Linked DNA regions of Homo sapiens. The protein of the gene in region 2 interacts with the protein of the main gene of each other region in a biochemical or structural test. Each region holds a gene or a part of one and is shown on either strand. Other genes may lie near its edges. The genes, in order: RNASEL and ABCE1.

The links.
Region 1: the proteins of ABCE1 (region 2) and RNASEL form a complex in vitro, tested with the Homo sapiens proteins (one study listed by BioGRID).

What each region holds. Positions count from the first base shown.
Region 1 is NC_000001.11:182,586,004-182,594,081, forward strand, and holds the start of RNASEL (2-5A-dependent ribonuclease), read right to left. Parts: upstream 3,254-8,078; 5' UTR 3,164-3,253; intron 968-3,163; 5' UTR 804-967; coding exon 1-803.
Region 2 is NC_000004.12:145,093,792-145,102,071, forward strand, and holds the start of ABCE1 (ATP-binding cassette sub-family E member 1), read left to right. Parts: upstream 1-4,519; 5' UTR 4,520-4,628; exon of another isoform or gene 4,629-4,780; intron 4,781-8,280. Other genes in the region: ANAPC10 (anaphase-promoting complex subunit 10), read right to left, coding at 2,194-2,320, 3,454-3,543. UniProt on the Homo sapiens protein: Nucleoside-triphosphatase (NTPase) involved in ribosome recycling by mediating ribosome disassembly. Able to hydrolyze ATP, GTP, UTP and CTP. Splits ribosomes into free 60S subunits and tRNA- and mRNA-bound 40S subunits.

The DNA.
Region 1 (8,078 bases), on a different chromosome or scaffold from region 2:
TCATTAATCTCTATGTGCTCTTGCTCCAGAAGCCTCTGCACCAAACCCAAGTGCTTCTTCTCCACTGCCAGGATCAGGGGAGTCTTCCCTCTTTCTCCCCTCACATTGACATCAGCCCCATGGTCCAGCAGCAGATGCGTAATAGCCTCCACATCACTATCGTCAGAGCTCAGGAGAGCATGGATCAAGGCATTTCTGCCCATATTGTCACAGGCGTTTACATCTGCCCCCATCTCATCAAGGAGAATCTTCAAGACCTCTACGTGTCCTTTTTCAGCAGCGTCCATGAGAGCTGTGGCCCCTCCTTTCCTCAGCCGCTCTTGATCCTCCTTTGTCTTTCGCCTCAAATTCACATTTGCTCCTCTCTTATAAAGGAATTTTAGGGCTTTGACCTTACCATACACAGCGGCTTCCATGAAGGCTGTGAAGCCATAAAAATCACACTCATTGACATCTGCTCCTTTAGAAAGGAAAAGTTTCAGCAGCTTCACGCTCCCCGCAATCGCTGCGAGGATAAAAGGCGTGGCCCCATTCTTCTTCCTCAGAACAGGGTCAGCACCATGACGAAGCAGAAGTTCCACAATGTCCTCCCTGCTCATTTGTACTGCGTTATGCAGAGGTGTCCAGCCCCCTTCCTCTTCCTGGAAATTAACATTGGCTCCACCTTCCAGCAATTGCTGGACCAGGTCAACATCTTCGTTTTGAACAGCTTTAATCAGCAAGTGATTGTCTTCCACTGCAGCCCTTCTACCGCTGGAGGACGTGGGTCCCTCCTGGGGGTTGTTATGATCCCTGCTCTCCATGACGGTAAATGCCACCTGCTACCACTTTTAGCCTTTTCCTTGAGAAAATGCAAATTTATCTCCTAGCACTTAATCAAAGAAGCTTTGAGTGTAAATTGGGATTCTCTGGCAACAGAGCAGCAGTATGAAGAAGGAACAATGTTCTCAGTCTTCTGACATTCCACCTGGCAACGAAGAGAGGTGCTTTGTAATTTTACAATAGGGAGAAAACACTTGAATCAGAGAAATTAATTATATTAGCATTTTTTCTAAATACATATATTTATTTCTTATAAAACTTTTAAATTACAGAATATTATAAATATATGTAAATTCAAAATAAGAAAATTATTTCTCTAGTCCCAATGCCCAGAAACAGCCAATGTTAATATTTTAGTGTATTTCTATATATTTTTTAAGACATTTGGAATTATACTCTGTAAGTAACTGTATCCTACTTCCTTTCATTTAATACCATACTATAAGTCATTTCCTGTGTTATTGCAAAGTCTTGTAAAACATTTTTCATGACTATGTAATATGAAATCATACAGTTGTTTCATTTCTCTATTACTGAGTGGTTTTCAAAAATAAGTTTTAAAGGGTTTTTTAAAATTAAAAATTTAAAAAATCTAAATGATGTTGCAGCAAATTCAGCTTATTTTAGTTTATTTTCTTTCGATAGATCTTATGATAGATTTCATATGATAGACTTCAAAGAATTTAATGACTATTCAAAAGATATGATTGTATTTAGGATTCTTAACCTATATTAACAAATTGCTTTCAATGTCATATAAATATATTCTTACCAGAGATAGGTGGCTTCCAAAAAAAAAAAAAAAAGACCATGAAAATATGCACATCAATTATTTATCAATAAAAAAAGAAGAACCCTCATTCAATAAGAAAAATATATTTCTTGGCTTTTTTTCCCTTTGCATTTCTTATGTCACCAGGAAGGTTGATCACTGTGTTTGCTGACTCTGTGCATGTCCTCTTTGTACAACCCTGTGCCCCTATTTAAAGTACAGACAATATCTGACTTATGTTTTTTGACTTTGATTTATGATTTTTTGACTTTGCAGTGGTGGAAAAGCAATAAACATTCAGTAGAAACCACACTTCAAGTACACATACAACCATTCTGTTTTTTATTTCAGCATAGCATTCGATAAATACATGAGACATTTAACACTTTATTATAAAATAAGCTTTGAGCTAGATGATTTTGCCCAACTGTAGCCTAATGTAAGTGTTCTGAGCACATTTAAGGTAAGCTAGGATAAGCTATGACGTTCAGTAGATTAGGTGTATTAAATGTGCTTTTGACCTACAATATTTTCAATTTAGGATGGGTTTATCTGTATGTAACCCCATCATAAGTCAAGGAGTATCTGCAGTAGTGAAAAGAGCTTGTACTCTGACCTTAGGGAGATCTAAGTTTGAGCTTGTGGCTGTGTAATTTTTTACTATTACTTCCTGTAACCTTGGATTGTTGAATCTCAATTTTCTATTTCCTGAAATGGAGACAAAAATAAATACAGTCATGTGTGTAAAGTACATTAAAGTATGGAGTGTTGCAAATATTAGCCACTCAATGAATGTTAGAGCTAATTATATCCCGTTATGAAAAAATAAATTGCTTAGTGAATTCTATTCTCCCTACACATGTGCATATAGCTACTACACGAATAGGCAACTGGCAGCTATCAATTTCGTCCAACTGTCAATCAGATCTGAGAATTACAGATCCAGTTCAATCATCAGACAGCCCGAAACTGTTACCTGAATATTTAAATAACTGCATCTGCTATAGAATTCACGAAGCAACCCTTTTTCAGCAATCTCACCACTCTGACAGTTTCAAAGCCTCAGAGGTTAATTGATTAGCCTCTTAGAAGTTTAATTAATTGTGCAACACATACACGATCACCAGGCAATGAAATCTTTGAACCAAAGTGTTTGTGTAGACCGTCCCCATTACAATCAGATGTGAGGTGGGCTGGTATAAACAAAGGAGCCGGGAAGGAGAGGAAATATCAAGGAAGCCCTGAGTGACGCATCAGAGTAGAGAAGAGACGAGCCTGCGGAAGTACTCCAACAGACAATCCTGCTTTCAATTTCACTTTCTCTGTGCGACCTGAGTAAGTCGCAAAGAGATGCCTGAGAAACTGAGGACATGGATAAATGACGTGTGGACTCTGACAGAACTCTGGAAGGGCACTGGAGGAAGATCCTTCCGGGCAGCCAAGGGCTGGGAGCTCCCCTCCCACTTCCCAAGTCCTCCAGCCCCTGGCCTCTCCAGTCTCCAAAGCCCAAGAATTCTTCAGGATCGACTTATCGAGGTTTTCTAGCTTTCCTCCTTCTGCCTGCCTTACCTGCTCAACTCAGACGTCTCAATTATTCCTTTGGCAGCCGCAAAGCCTGGAAGACTGCTTGCAGCCCGAGCAGTTTCCTCCTGCTGCGTCACTGAGTCAGCAGGGCGGAGCCAAGAAAGGAGTGAGGAGTGTGGGAGGGAAAGCAGCCACAGGCTCACTCTGGCACCAGGAGCAAAGCTTCTACTTGCACACCTTCTGGAGGAAAGCAATAGCCACTTTCTGTCTGCTGATGAGGAATGTGATGCCCGGGGTCATGTCACTCACCTCTCAGTCTTGCAGCCTTTCAGGTGGCAGCAGCCAACTGCATCCATCACTCTTGCATCCTTTCTTTGTCATTGCAAATTCTGGTCTTCTTGGAAGAAAGGAATGGAAAGTAAACACATATTGAGCACCTATTGTGTTCCAGACACAATGCTTTACATGCAGCATGGTCCCAGTTAACCCCTGACAATCTTGTTGATTATGAAACGCAGGCTCATAGAAGCTAAGTAAGCCCAAAGCCCAAGCCCTGTCACCTTTCTCAGCTCACTCAACTCACAGCTCTGAGGCAGTGCGGCCTTCTCAGAAGGGTACCGGACTGGCAGTCTGGAGACCTGATCCTACAGCCAGCTCTGTGGCTGCTTAGCTGAGTGACCTCAGGCATGTGATTTAACCATGTAGGGCCTCAGTTCTCTCCTATAACTTGGTTTTGAAGGTTCCTTTCTGCTCTACAAGTTCTGTTCTTGACTATCTTCCTAGCAATGAGCTGTGTACTGTGTACTTAGTGCTGTAGTGGAAAGTATTTCCATCCCCAAAGAATACCCAGTCTTGCTGGGGAGACAAAGCCCTGGGACTTGTGAACAACAAGTAGTGCATGGTCACTTGACGACCACCTGTGTCACACCATCCAGACCCGGGGCCTCTACCACCCCTTATACACCAGGGATTCCCAGGCCTCGCTCTCTAACCCCAGCCTCTCTGCTGAGCTTTAGACCTACAAATCTTGAATATGTGTCAAATGGAAATACTCATCTTTTCCTAAATCTGCCCCTCCTCCCACTTATTCCATCTCCACAGATGGCACCATCACCCGGAGGCCACCCCTCATCCTCATCCCAACACCAAGTCTCTTGCTTTCATCTACAAAGGGATGACCATTCGAGTCCTTGTCATCATTTATAGCAAGAAATTGATGACTTGCTTCCTAGCCCTTCATCCATTGTTCCACCCTGCATCATTGACCCACCATCATTTTCAGGACAAAGTTCAAAAATCCTTAACCCATTATTCATTTAATTAATACTTGTTGGACAGGCGTGGTGGCTCACACCTGTAATCCCAGCACTTTGGGAGGCCAAGGCAGGCAGATCACCTGAGTTCAGGAGTTCAAGACCAGCCTGGCCAACATGGTGAAACCGCGTCTCTACTAAAAATACAAAAAGTAGCCAGGTGTGGTGTTGTGCACCTGTAATCCCAGCTACTCGGGAGGCTGAGGCAGGAGAATTGCTCGAACCCGGGAGGTGGAGGTTGAAGTGAGCCAACATAGTACCACTACACTCCAGCCTGGATGACAGAGCAAGACTCCGTCTCAAAAAAAAAAAAAAAACTTATTGAGCACTGACTATGTTACCAGTGACTATTCTGCATATCTGGCATAGAATGATTTACCACACCAGTTCCTCACAGAGTTCTTCTAGGAGCTTGCATCTTAATAGGCAGAAATAGATCATAAACAGTTGAAAAACCCAACATATCATGATTTCAGGTTATAATACAGTCCCTGCCTGTCCCTACTCCTCATGGGCATCATCAGTGCTAGCCTCCAGTTCCTTGTCACATTATGTCATATGCTTCTACCTCTATATCTTGACCTATGCTGCCTTGCTACCAGAACTAATGATATTAGTAAGAGTGATGAAAATGTGGATGATTCTGTTAATAATGACAAACATTTACATAGCTCTTTAATATGGTCCAGGAACTGTTCTGAACACTTTATATATGTATTAAATTATTTAATCTTATCCTTATGATGTATATACTATTTTTGTCTCCGTTTTGCAGATAAGAAAACTGAAGCATAAAGTGGTTAAGTAACTTGCTCTAAGGATTTGATCTATATCACTGAACATCACAGAGAAACAGCTTGTCCCCATTCTTTTCTTTTTTTTTTTCTTTTCAAGACGGAGTCTCACTCTGTCACCCAGGCTGGAGTGCAGTGGCGCGATCTTGGCTCACTGAAACCTCTGTCTCCTGGGTTCAAGCGATTCTCTTGCCTTAGCCTCCTGAGGAGCTGGGATTACAGGCACACACCACCACATCCAGCTAATTTTTGTATTTTTAGTAGAGATGGGGTTTCACCACGTTGGTCAGGCTGGTCTCAAACTCCCGACCTCATTATCCATCCACCTCAGCCTCCCAAAGTGCTGGGATTACAGGTGTGAGTTTTTTGAGATGGAGTCTTGCTCTGTCACCCAGGCTGGAGTGCAGTGGTGTGATCTCGGCTCACCACAACCTCCACCTCCCAGGTTCAAGTGATTCTCGTGCCCCAGCCTCCCAAGTAGCTGGAATTACAAGCATGAGCCACCATGCCTGGCTAATTTTTGTATTTTTAGTAGAAACAGGGTTTCACCATGTTGGCCAGGCTGGTCTCGAACTCCTGACCTCGAGTTATCCACCCACCTCGGCCTCCCAAAGTTCTGGGATTACAGGTGTGACCCACCATGCCCAGCCCCTGCCCCCATTCTTACTGAAGCAAGATAATGAACAAAATAAGTAAATCATGTAGTGTATTGTAGGCAACAAATCTACAGAAAATATTAAGATAGAATAAGGAGGGTTAAAAGTGCCAGGATGGGGATGGGGATATTAAACAAAGTAGTCGGGAAGGGTCTTGTTCAGAAGGTGACGTTTGAGCAAAGACTTGCGGAAGATGCAGCAACAGGCTATGCAGATGTCTGCACCAAGAACACAGCAGACAGAGGAAACAGCAAGCACACAGGTCCTGAGGTGGGAGCATGCCTGGTGGGAACAAGCAGCAGCAAGGAGGCCAGTGAGGCTGGAGCAGAGTGAGGGAGGGGAGTTGATAAGCAGAGGTTCAGGTCAGGCGCGACCTTAGGGCCCGTTGTAAGGCTTTTGGCTTCCACACTAAACAACATGGTAGCCATTGGAGTATTGGAGCAGAGGAGTAACATGATCTCCATGGCTTTTTTTTTAGAGGATCTTAATCAGTCCTGTGCTGAGAAGAATCTGGGGATTGAAAGCAAAGGGAGAAGTTGGAAAATCCGTTAGAAGGCTATTGCAATAATCCAGCTGAGAGTCAACGGTGGCCCAGACCAGGGTGGTAGCATAGTGGTAACAGTGGATGTTAGTTTGTCCTGAACAGATGATTTGGTAAAAACTCTTGGAGAATGCTGACCTTTCTGGTCATAATGACATATGTTAAAGTCTAGTGAGCAGAATCATACCTACAGTGAAACCAAGGCAAGTGTATTACCAACTACAGCGAGGGAGGACTCATCCCAGGAACTGCAGAGTATTTTTTTTTTTTTTTTTGAGATGGAGTCTTGGACTGTCACCTGGGCTGGAGTGCAGTGGTGTGATCTCGGTTCACTGCAACTGCTGCCTCCTGGGTTCAAGCGATTCTCCTGCCTCAGCCTCCCGAATAGCTAGGATTACAGGTGCCTGCCACCACGCCCAGCTAATTTTTCTGTATTTTTAGTACAGACAGGGTTTCATCATGTTGGCCAGGCTGGTCTCGAACTCCTGACCTTGTGATTCGCCCACCTCAGCCTCCCAAAGTGCTGGGATTATGGGCATGAGCCACTGCGCCCTGCTTTTTTTTTTTTTTTTTAAGAGACATGATCTTGCTGTGCCACCCAGGCTGGAGTGCAGTGGCACAATCATATAGATCATATAGCTCATTGCAACCTCAACTTCCTGGGCTCAAGTGAACCTCCTGCCTCAGCCTCCCAAATAACTAGGACCCATTGTGAGGCATGCACCACCATGCCCGGCTAATTTTTAAAATTTTTTGTAGAGATGGGTTCTCACTGTGTTGCCCAGGCTGATTTTGAACTCCTGGCTTCAAGCAATCCTCCAGCTTTGTGCTCCCAAAGCACTGAGATTATAGATGTGAGCCATTCCACCCAGCCCCAGGATATCTTCTAAAAGGGAATCAGGATACTTATTTTAGGGTTTGAGCTTTTTGTCAGGTGATTTGGGGAAGGGTTTAAGGAAATAGAGGTTTGTTCTCAATTGGGTGGTGTCAGGAAGCAGAAGCACTTTGGTGCCTTCATTATGATCATCTAGGAATCAGGAGGAACAAAGTGTAGCTAGCACTGTCACTGCTCAAGGAACAGGTGGCTCATGTTACCCAGGAGAGGGGGTGTTGGTTACTTTTATGGTGGTATGGCATCTTTTCTTCACCTCGTGTTCAGTCCTCATTAAGAAGTGGCCTTATTTCTGTCTTGTTCCACTGTAGTCATAGGACAACATCATCAATTATTGTTGGCATTCTGCAGAATTGTTTTGTTCCATGGGAGCCAGGAGTATCAAGGAGGGGGGTGCCCCAAGAGACAGGTGGAGTCTGACAACAGTCCTGGCAGAAGGAGAGATCAGTCTGTCCACAAAGAGACCCCAGTCGCTGCTGGTTCAGAGGCCCAGACTCTGAAGACAGAATCACCAAGAGCAGAAGAGACCCCTCCCAGCAGTGGATGCGAATTCCAGGCTGGGAACATGGAGAGAGAAACCAAGGCCAAGGTGAAATGTAAGGATACCTTCCTCCTTCCCTCTGGCTCCCTCCTTCCCACACTCAAGATGTTAGAATTAAGCAATGTTCTTAACCTTTCCTTCCTTTGACAAGAAAGATCGCTGGGACTGCAGAGATTTTCTCTAAGCTTAGGAATAAATTGCATTTTACTTGCCAAAAGCCCTT
Region 2 (8,280 bases):
AACTCCAAAAAAAGTGAAAAAAAATAGAGTACCCAAAAGCTGTGGGATAATAACAAATGGTCTAGCATATGTATAATTGGATTCCCAGATTCTTAGAAAGATAATAGAGAAGCAATAGGGCAAAAGAAATAATTGAAGAAATAATGGACACAATGTCTTTTACAACCTAGTCTCAAAAGTCATATACCATCAGTTTTGCCTTATTCTACTGGTCCCAGAAACCAATCCTGACACAATTTGGAAGCGGTCCACAGAAGGGCATGAATACCAGAAGGCAAGGATAACTGGGGACCATTTTGAAAGCTAGCTACTACTAATCTGGTGAATGGATAAACAAACTGGTACACCCATATTGTGGAACAGTAATCAACAATAAAAAGGAATAAACTACAGATATGTGCCCCAGCAAAACCCACAAGTGAATTATGCTAAATGAAAGACACTAGACCCAATAAGCTACATACAGTATTTATATCGGCATTCTGGGAAAGGCGAAACCAAAGGGACCCAAAACTGAGCTGTCAGGGGCTTGGAAAGGCCCAGAAGACTGACCATAAAGAGACATGAGGGAACTTTGTGGGATGATGGCAATGTTATATATTCGATTATAATGCTGCTTATATGACTGTACATGTCTGTAAAATTCACAGAACTGTACACCTAAAAAGGGTAAGTTTTATAGTATGTAAATTATACCTCAAGAAAGTGCTCATAGAAAGACAGAGAAGGGAATCTTGAGGGGAAACAGAAGAGGCTTGGTTGAGAGGATGGATACAGGAGTCATAATGTGCAAATAATAAAAGTTTCTGAAAGAAAGATGACTACTAAACTAATAACATTATAAAGTCCCTCAAGCTAAAGAAATTTCTCCAAGCTTGAGTCTGCAGGTGAAAACTGCCTATAAAATTATGGGTTACAAGGGTGAGAAAAGATATCTGGCAAATGCCATGAACTCAAGAATAAAGAGAAAAACCTTAGATGCTTCCAGAAAAAAACAAGTTACTTAGGAAAAAAAAAAAAGAGAGGTAGGCATAGGCCTTTATATCCACAACATGGCAAAAGAAGATAGTGAAAGAGCATTCATAAATTTTTGAGAGAAAAGGACTGCCACCCAAGAATTCTATCCCAACAAAGAGTAAAAGGAAAGTATTTTGGCGTATGTTATCACTCATTTATCCAATTGAGAGAAACGGCCAAAAAAAATAAATGAATAACAACTGAATCATAGTAGAGATAGAGGAGGAAAAGAGAAGACCTTATGACATATGTAATTAAATCTAACTAGGGAATAGTAAAGAAATTGGACAGAGATATATGATAAAAAAAAATTCAGTGCATTAGAATTAAAATAAAGCATCTAAACAAAAGGAATATTAAAATCAGACCAGTGTACAGTAGTATCTTTATCTGCAGTTTCATCTCCGCAGTTTCAGTTACCCTTGGTCAATCATGGTTCAAAATATTAAAAGGGAAATTCCAGAAACAAACAATTGGTAAGTTTTAAACTGTGTACTGTCTGAGTAGTGTGAAGAAATTTCTCACCATCCTGCTCCATCCCACCCAAGACATAAATCATCACTTTGTCCAGCACATCCACCACTTTGTCCAGCACATCCACCACTTTGTCCAGCATATCCACACTGTGTATACTACCTGACCGTTAGCCATCAACATCATCTGCTCCTGATATCCAATCATCAACATCATCGTGGCTTGATGATCCAGAATCACCAGAAGCAGATGCTCCTCCTTCTGAAGTATTGTCAGAAGGTTAATAGTAGCCTAACACTACATCACAACACCTACATTCTTCACCTCACTCGCTCTCATCACATAGACATTTTATCTCTCACATCATCGCAGGAGGAAGGGTACAATATAATATTTTGAGAGCGAGAGAGACCACTTTCACAAAACTTTTATTACTTTATTACTTCTATTGTTATAATTGTTCTATTTTATTATTAATTATTGTTAATCTCTTACTGTGCCTAATTTATAAATTACACTTTATCACAGGTATTTATGTATAGGAAAAAACATAGTATTAATATAGAAAGGGTTCAGTACTATCCATGGTTTTAGGCATCCACTGGGAGTCCTGGAATGTATCCCCTGGGATAAGGGGAGATGCCTGTACAAGGAAACTGCAAGTGACTATTTCCAACAGCTTTTTTGTTTGTTAGTTTTTACCTGGTTTGCAAGATGAGAGTGACCAAACAGCTTGTGACCCAATTTCCCGTACTGTTCCAGTCCTTTCCAACTGCTTGGGGTCAGCACCAGGAGGTGTCTTGTTTGGTGTAGTCATTTTTAAAATATTCTATGTAGAAAACAAGAATGCACACATTGTATCAGGAACTGGGCATCTTTCTACAAAAGTTTTTTACCAAGAAAAATTTAATGGAACTCATATACCCTGACATTAATCATTTATTCTGAAGAATGCAGTTAATATAATTAAATCACTGTAATTTAAATCTTAGGGGCTGGGCATGGTGGCTCACACCTGTAATCCCAACACTTTGGGAGGCTGAGACAGGAGGATCATGTGAGCCCAGGAGTTCAAGACCAGCCTGGACAACATGGCAAGACCCCATCTCTATTTTTAAATAAATAAAAATCTTAGGAATTCAGGTTTTGTTTCATATGACCAGATATGCAAAGCAGTGAGCTATAGTAGTCAAAAGAGCACAGAATCAAAGTTTTGGCTTCAGTATCTCCTTTAATCAGCCTAGACTTTGAGTAGGTCTGGGCTTTATTTCCTCTCCTGTTAAAGAGGTTCACTTGATGATTTTTACTTCTACAATGCTATGCAGTTCTATAATTCTGTGCCTGAAAATTCAAATGACTTTTAGCCCTAGAAAAGTCAGACTGAAATACTTTTATTCTAGGAATATATAAATATTGATCCTCATTTTATTTACTTAATTCCTTTTTTTTTAGAGACAGGATCTAGCTATGTTACCCAGGCTGGTCTTGAACACCTTGCTTCAAGCGATCCTCCCACCTCAGCCTCCCAAGTAGCTGGGATTACAGGTGTGATCCCATCACCCCACTAAGATCCTCATTTTAAATATTCATTGAGTGATGCAGAGAACAGTCATACCTGCCCTCTAGCTGTCAAAAGTTTTATTTAAGACCCAGCCCGGTGGCTCACACCTGTAATCCCAGCAGTTTGGGAGGCCAAGGCAGGTGGATTGCTTGAGCCCAGGAGTTCGAGACCAGCCTGGAATATGGTGAAACCCTGTCTCTAAAAAAATTCCAAAAAATCAGCCTGGTGTGGCGGCACACACCTGTAGTCCCAGGGGGGCTGAGACAGGAGGATCACCTGAACTGGGAGGCGGAGGTTGCAGTGAGCCGAGATCGTGCTACTGCACTCCAGCCTGCGTAACAGAGCAAGACACTGTCCCAAAAAGCACAAAAATAAGAAAAAAATGTTAAAAGTTCACTTACATATGCTCTTACCATAGAAGATAAGGTCAGGAAAATGGCTTCAAGATTTTGAAGTGAATAACTGGCCCATTCTAAAAAGGTTGACCTCATCTTTCACATCTTTTGTTAATTTTACTAAGTCTATTCATATGTGAAAAAACACTTCAATACTGGATCGTGAACAATATGTAAAACTGCTTTGGTAGCGCAGTTACTGCTACTGAACATTGTTATATATGCTATTCAAAATAGGTGCAATAGTTCTGCATACCGTTTCCTTGACACCTCCCATTGTATCCGAAGTTGTTCTTTAATCGGCACACAAGCACTTGATACTTACTAAATAACGGCAGACACAACGGACTGTAAACTTTGGCAAGGCCTGAGGCTTAAACGCTCAATAAGTAATTTACTGAATGAATAAACAGATGAATAGGTTCAGTTATGAACTAGTTGTCACTTGCCTGCAAGTTAGGTGAGATCTAGGGCGAGACTATTCAACCTGCAACCATCATTACTAACTGAATGTCCTGTTACCTAAAAAAAGATAGAAATAAAGCCCATCTTTAGGGCAGAATTCAACTGCCGGACTTGGGACTGGACGCCACCAAGTGGATAAAATATGGAGCTCGGAAAAGATTGGATTCCCGGCCCTGAACTGACCACACAGTTGAGAGGAAGTTGAGGCCTAGAAGAGCGCGCAACAGTAAGCCGTGTCGGCACCAGACTCTGTTGGTCCTACTGACACCTCCAGCGTTAGAATGACTAAGGCTCCACTCCTGACCCACCGGCCTTGAGGAAAGCGCAAACGTAAAAAAAGATTGAAACCGGAGAGGCGAATGCATCTGTTTACGCTAGGACCACGCTCGACGTCGGAGAAAAGCCCACACACTCACAGTTTCCAGACCTGGCTGCTTGCCGAAACTCAGATTCTCGGCACCTCCAGCAGCTGGCTTCGCCAACGGCGTTGAACAAGGGTCGCAGCTCAATGACGTCATATCTCCCTACCTACCTCCAGGGTTCCGCCTCACGCTCTATGTCGCGCGCGCGCACTACGTCCTATGGCTTGCGCGTGCGGCGGCTGGGCACCGCCATTTTGGCCGGTGGCCGTGAGAACACGCTGTGTGGCTGAAAAGTGAAGGCAAGAGCTGATTTGGCCTCTGTGCTCCCCTCCGCAAGGGGATCGTTTTCTCCAGGTACGTGAATAGCCCGGAGAGGTTTGGCCGTTAGCTGCCATCTGCCAGGTTGGAAAGAATGTAGGGACGTTCTCCGAGAGCCTTTGGTTAGGCCTTAGGTGGCGGAGACAGCAGCAGCGCGTGGCAGCGGTTCCTGCGGGACAGCTGGAACTGATGGAGCGCGGGCGACGCCGAGAGCTTGGGGGCGCCTCGGTCTTCCCCTCCAGCCGACCCGGCTGTCGCCGCTGTTGCCTGCCACACCCGCGAGGGACTTCGAGAATGGACCTAGATGCCGTAGTCTCCACTCCCCCTTTACCCCACTCCCGCCCTGAAGCTAAACCTGCTGGAGAGGAAGGCACCTTTAGAACTTACAGCACTCTCTAGTACCCCCACACTCCTCCAGCACCCAAAATGGATATATTGTCACATGTGCATATTTGGTTGTGGGAAGTCGTGGCTTCCACGTTTTGTTGAGTGGAATGAGTCATGGCATCTTGCCGCCATGAAGTCGAATACTCGCTGTCCACTCCCAGGCTTTATAGAAATGATGCCCACATGTCACTCTGCTTTTCTCAGAACAGCGTGTACGCAGCTATGACTGGGGTTGTCCCAAGTAGTTTCCCAGTAGAAATCCTATAGTTTTTTTGGTACGCTTTTGTAGCACTAGGCACTTTCTCCCCTTACCCGTTTTTCCTTTTATTGTATCTAATACTCATTGAGATCAAGGTTGATGTCTTTACTCAGAATACCTTTATTATCTCTTCAGGGCTTCGTACATTGTAGGCATTTAATACGTATTGTGAATGAATGACAGCCAAAGCCGAATTCCCACCTCCCATTAACTACATAAGCTTATTTTCTCTTTTTTGATGGTAAAAATCTATAAGAGGAAGAACTGTCCAAATAACATGTTTTATTTTTTTACTCTTTCCCAACAGGACTGCTAACTAGTCATTTATGATAGTGGCATTTATGTTGCAGTAGTTTGTCCCATATTCTGAGAATATTCATTGTATACCAGCCACCTGACACTAATACTTTGTTAGTGTAACCAAAGGCTCAGAACCTGTATTTGAACCAAAAGCTGTTTGGGGTTTGTGAGCTTTTTGAGAACTTAGTTCTCCCCTATTTTAAAAAAGGGAGTTTTTTTGTTTGTTTGTTTGTTGGAAGAGCATCTAACAATTGGGAGAGAGGGGGAGAAAACAATATTAAGTTAGAGTTCTTCTAAATGTCTTAAACTTAAAACTCTTTGAAATCAGAGCCGTGTACCACTCCTAACTTCTACGTGTTTTGTAAGACTAATAAACTACAATAAGCATGGGTTAGACTATTTCATGTGATACTAAACATCATTAGTTAACAGCAGTCTTTGAAATGCTTTTACACAGCGTTACAATTATTTTGGCTTTAGACTGTAAATGCTTCTAAGTATTCCTCACTTCCTTTTTTCCTCTCAGCTGTAAGAATGACACTGAGGGTCATTGTTCTAGTGTCAATTTTGAACACTTTTGTCTTCGAATCTGAAATATCCGCAAATCCTTCTTTGTTTGCAGGAGCCTGTTAACTATAATCTTCCTCTCCAAGCTTTACTGTGCCTAGGTTTTCTATTGAAAAACAAGTAGGGAATCCCCTTGCCCCAATTATTGAAACTGATACAGAAATTGAATTAAAAGTGTTCACACAGTTAATTAACAGTTCTACAAAGAATCCATGTTCATTTTTCTTAAATGCATTACAATTTATCACTATTTTTATATAAATCAGTTTATTAACCACTTCTGGTATGTTTTTATTCTACTGTAAAAATCAAGCCAGGGTAGTGACATGCACCTATAGTCCCAGCTATTCGGGAGGCTAAAGCAAGAGGATCCCTTGAGCCCAGGAGTCCCAGTCTGTAGTGTCCTGTGATCACTGCCCTCAGCCAGGACACCATAGCAAGATCCCTGTGTCTTTTTAAAAAATTGTCTTTTACAGTCTTTTGGTTTTTAAAATAGTTTGAAAAATTAAATATTTTAGTAGTTTAACAGAAATAAAGTTTAAGCAATTTCGTGGTGATTTATCCCCTGGAGGGGAATTCATTATGCTCTTTCACTGAGTAATTGTAGAAAGGCATTCAGTATTTAAATTAGAATGCATGGTGTCCAGTTTTAATAGCTTGCTGAAGAATCTTCATTTCCTAGGAAGTTGTCATTTCCCGAATAATAGCTTTTTTGTGACAATTCAAGCCATCTAATTTCTTCCTCTTCTAATCTTTACAAGACCTGGACCAGTTTTTAGAGGAATAGAGTCAACCTGTTTATTGGAATAACCCTGTACTTATTACATGAACATTTAGTCTCCTTTTGAATGATTTTTTTTTTCAGTATGTAGTTTAGTGGACAACTGTCACTATAAAATATTGGTAACTTGCAAGATTTCTAAAGTTGTTATAACCTACAGGAAAATTATTTACTATATTTAAATTCATATTCTCATTCATTTAGCAGAAATGCTTGATCTCCTGTGTGCTAGGCACAGGTTCAGCCACTGGAATGAACAAAAATTCCTACCCTCATGATGGATGGAGTACATTCTACTTGGGGAGGGGAAAAATGTGTATGTGTTTGTAGAGAGACAATATACATACACACACCCACGATAGATGTGTGCATATACACCAGATATATATAAAAAAAATATATATATGGAATATATAGTATGTCATATAGTTGAGCTAGGGAGAAAAATAAAGCAAGAAAGAAGGATGAAGAGGCAGTTGGGTGTATTTTTCGGTAGTGTATATTGTGGTAGTGTAGTTACAAAAGGCTCACTGAGAAATAGTAAAGATTGAAAGGAGTAAGCCATGTAACTCTCTAGGGGGAATAGCATTACAGGCAGAAAGTGCCAAGATCTTGAAGCAAGAACATGCCTGGCATGTGCTAGGAACAACAAAGAGCCAATGTAGCTGGAGCCATACAAGAGCTAGAGTAGTTGGAGATGAGATCAGAAAGTTAACAGAGGCTGATCAATGCCTCATTGATTATTTTCAGGACTTTGGCATTTACTCAGATTGAGAATGAAGCCATTGCAGGATTTTAAATAGAGGAGTGACATGATCTAGCTTACTCTTTAAAAGGCTTCCTATGGTTCCTGTGTTGAGAATGAACTGTTGAGGGTTAGAGTAGAAAGAGGTGAGGGTAAAAGCAAAGAGATCTGTTAGGAAGCTATTTGAGTGATGCTGGTAAGAGATGATAGTGATAGCTTACACCAAACTCATGAGATCAGATTCTGGATGTTTTATAGCTTCAGTGGGATTTGCTGTTATTAGGTGGAAAAGAAAATGACTTCAAGGATTTGGGCCTGAGCAAATGGAAGACTGGAGTTGCCATCTAACAAAATGGGCAAGACTGCTGAAATTTTGGTGAGGATATCAGGAGCTTAGTTGGGAGATTCCTCTTAAGCCTTCCAGAGATGTTAGGTGGGCAGGAAGGGTTCAAGAGAGGTATGCTGACTAAAGATAGAAATTTGGAAATTTGCAGTATATAAATGGAATTTAAACCTGTGAGACCAGAATAGAACAACTTGGGGAATGAGTATATGTGGAAAAAAATGACCAAGTCTTAGAGCACTCTGCATTTAGAAGCCTGGGAGATGAAGATGAGTGACCAGGAAAACAGTAGAAAAACCAGATTAG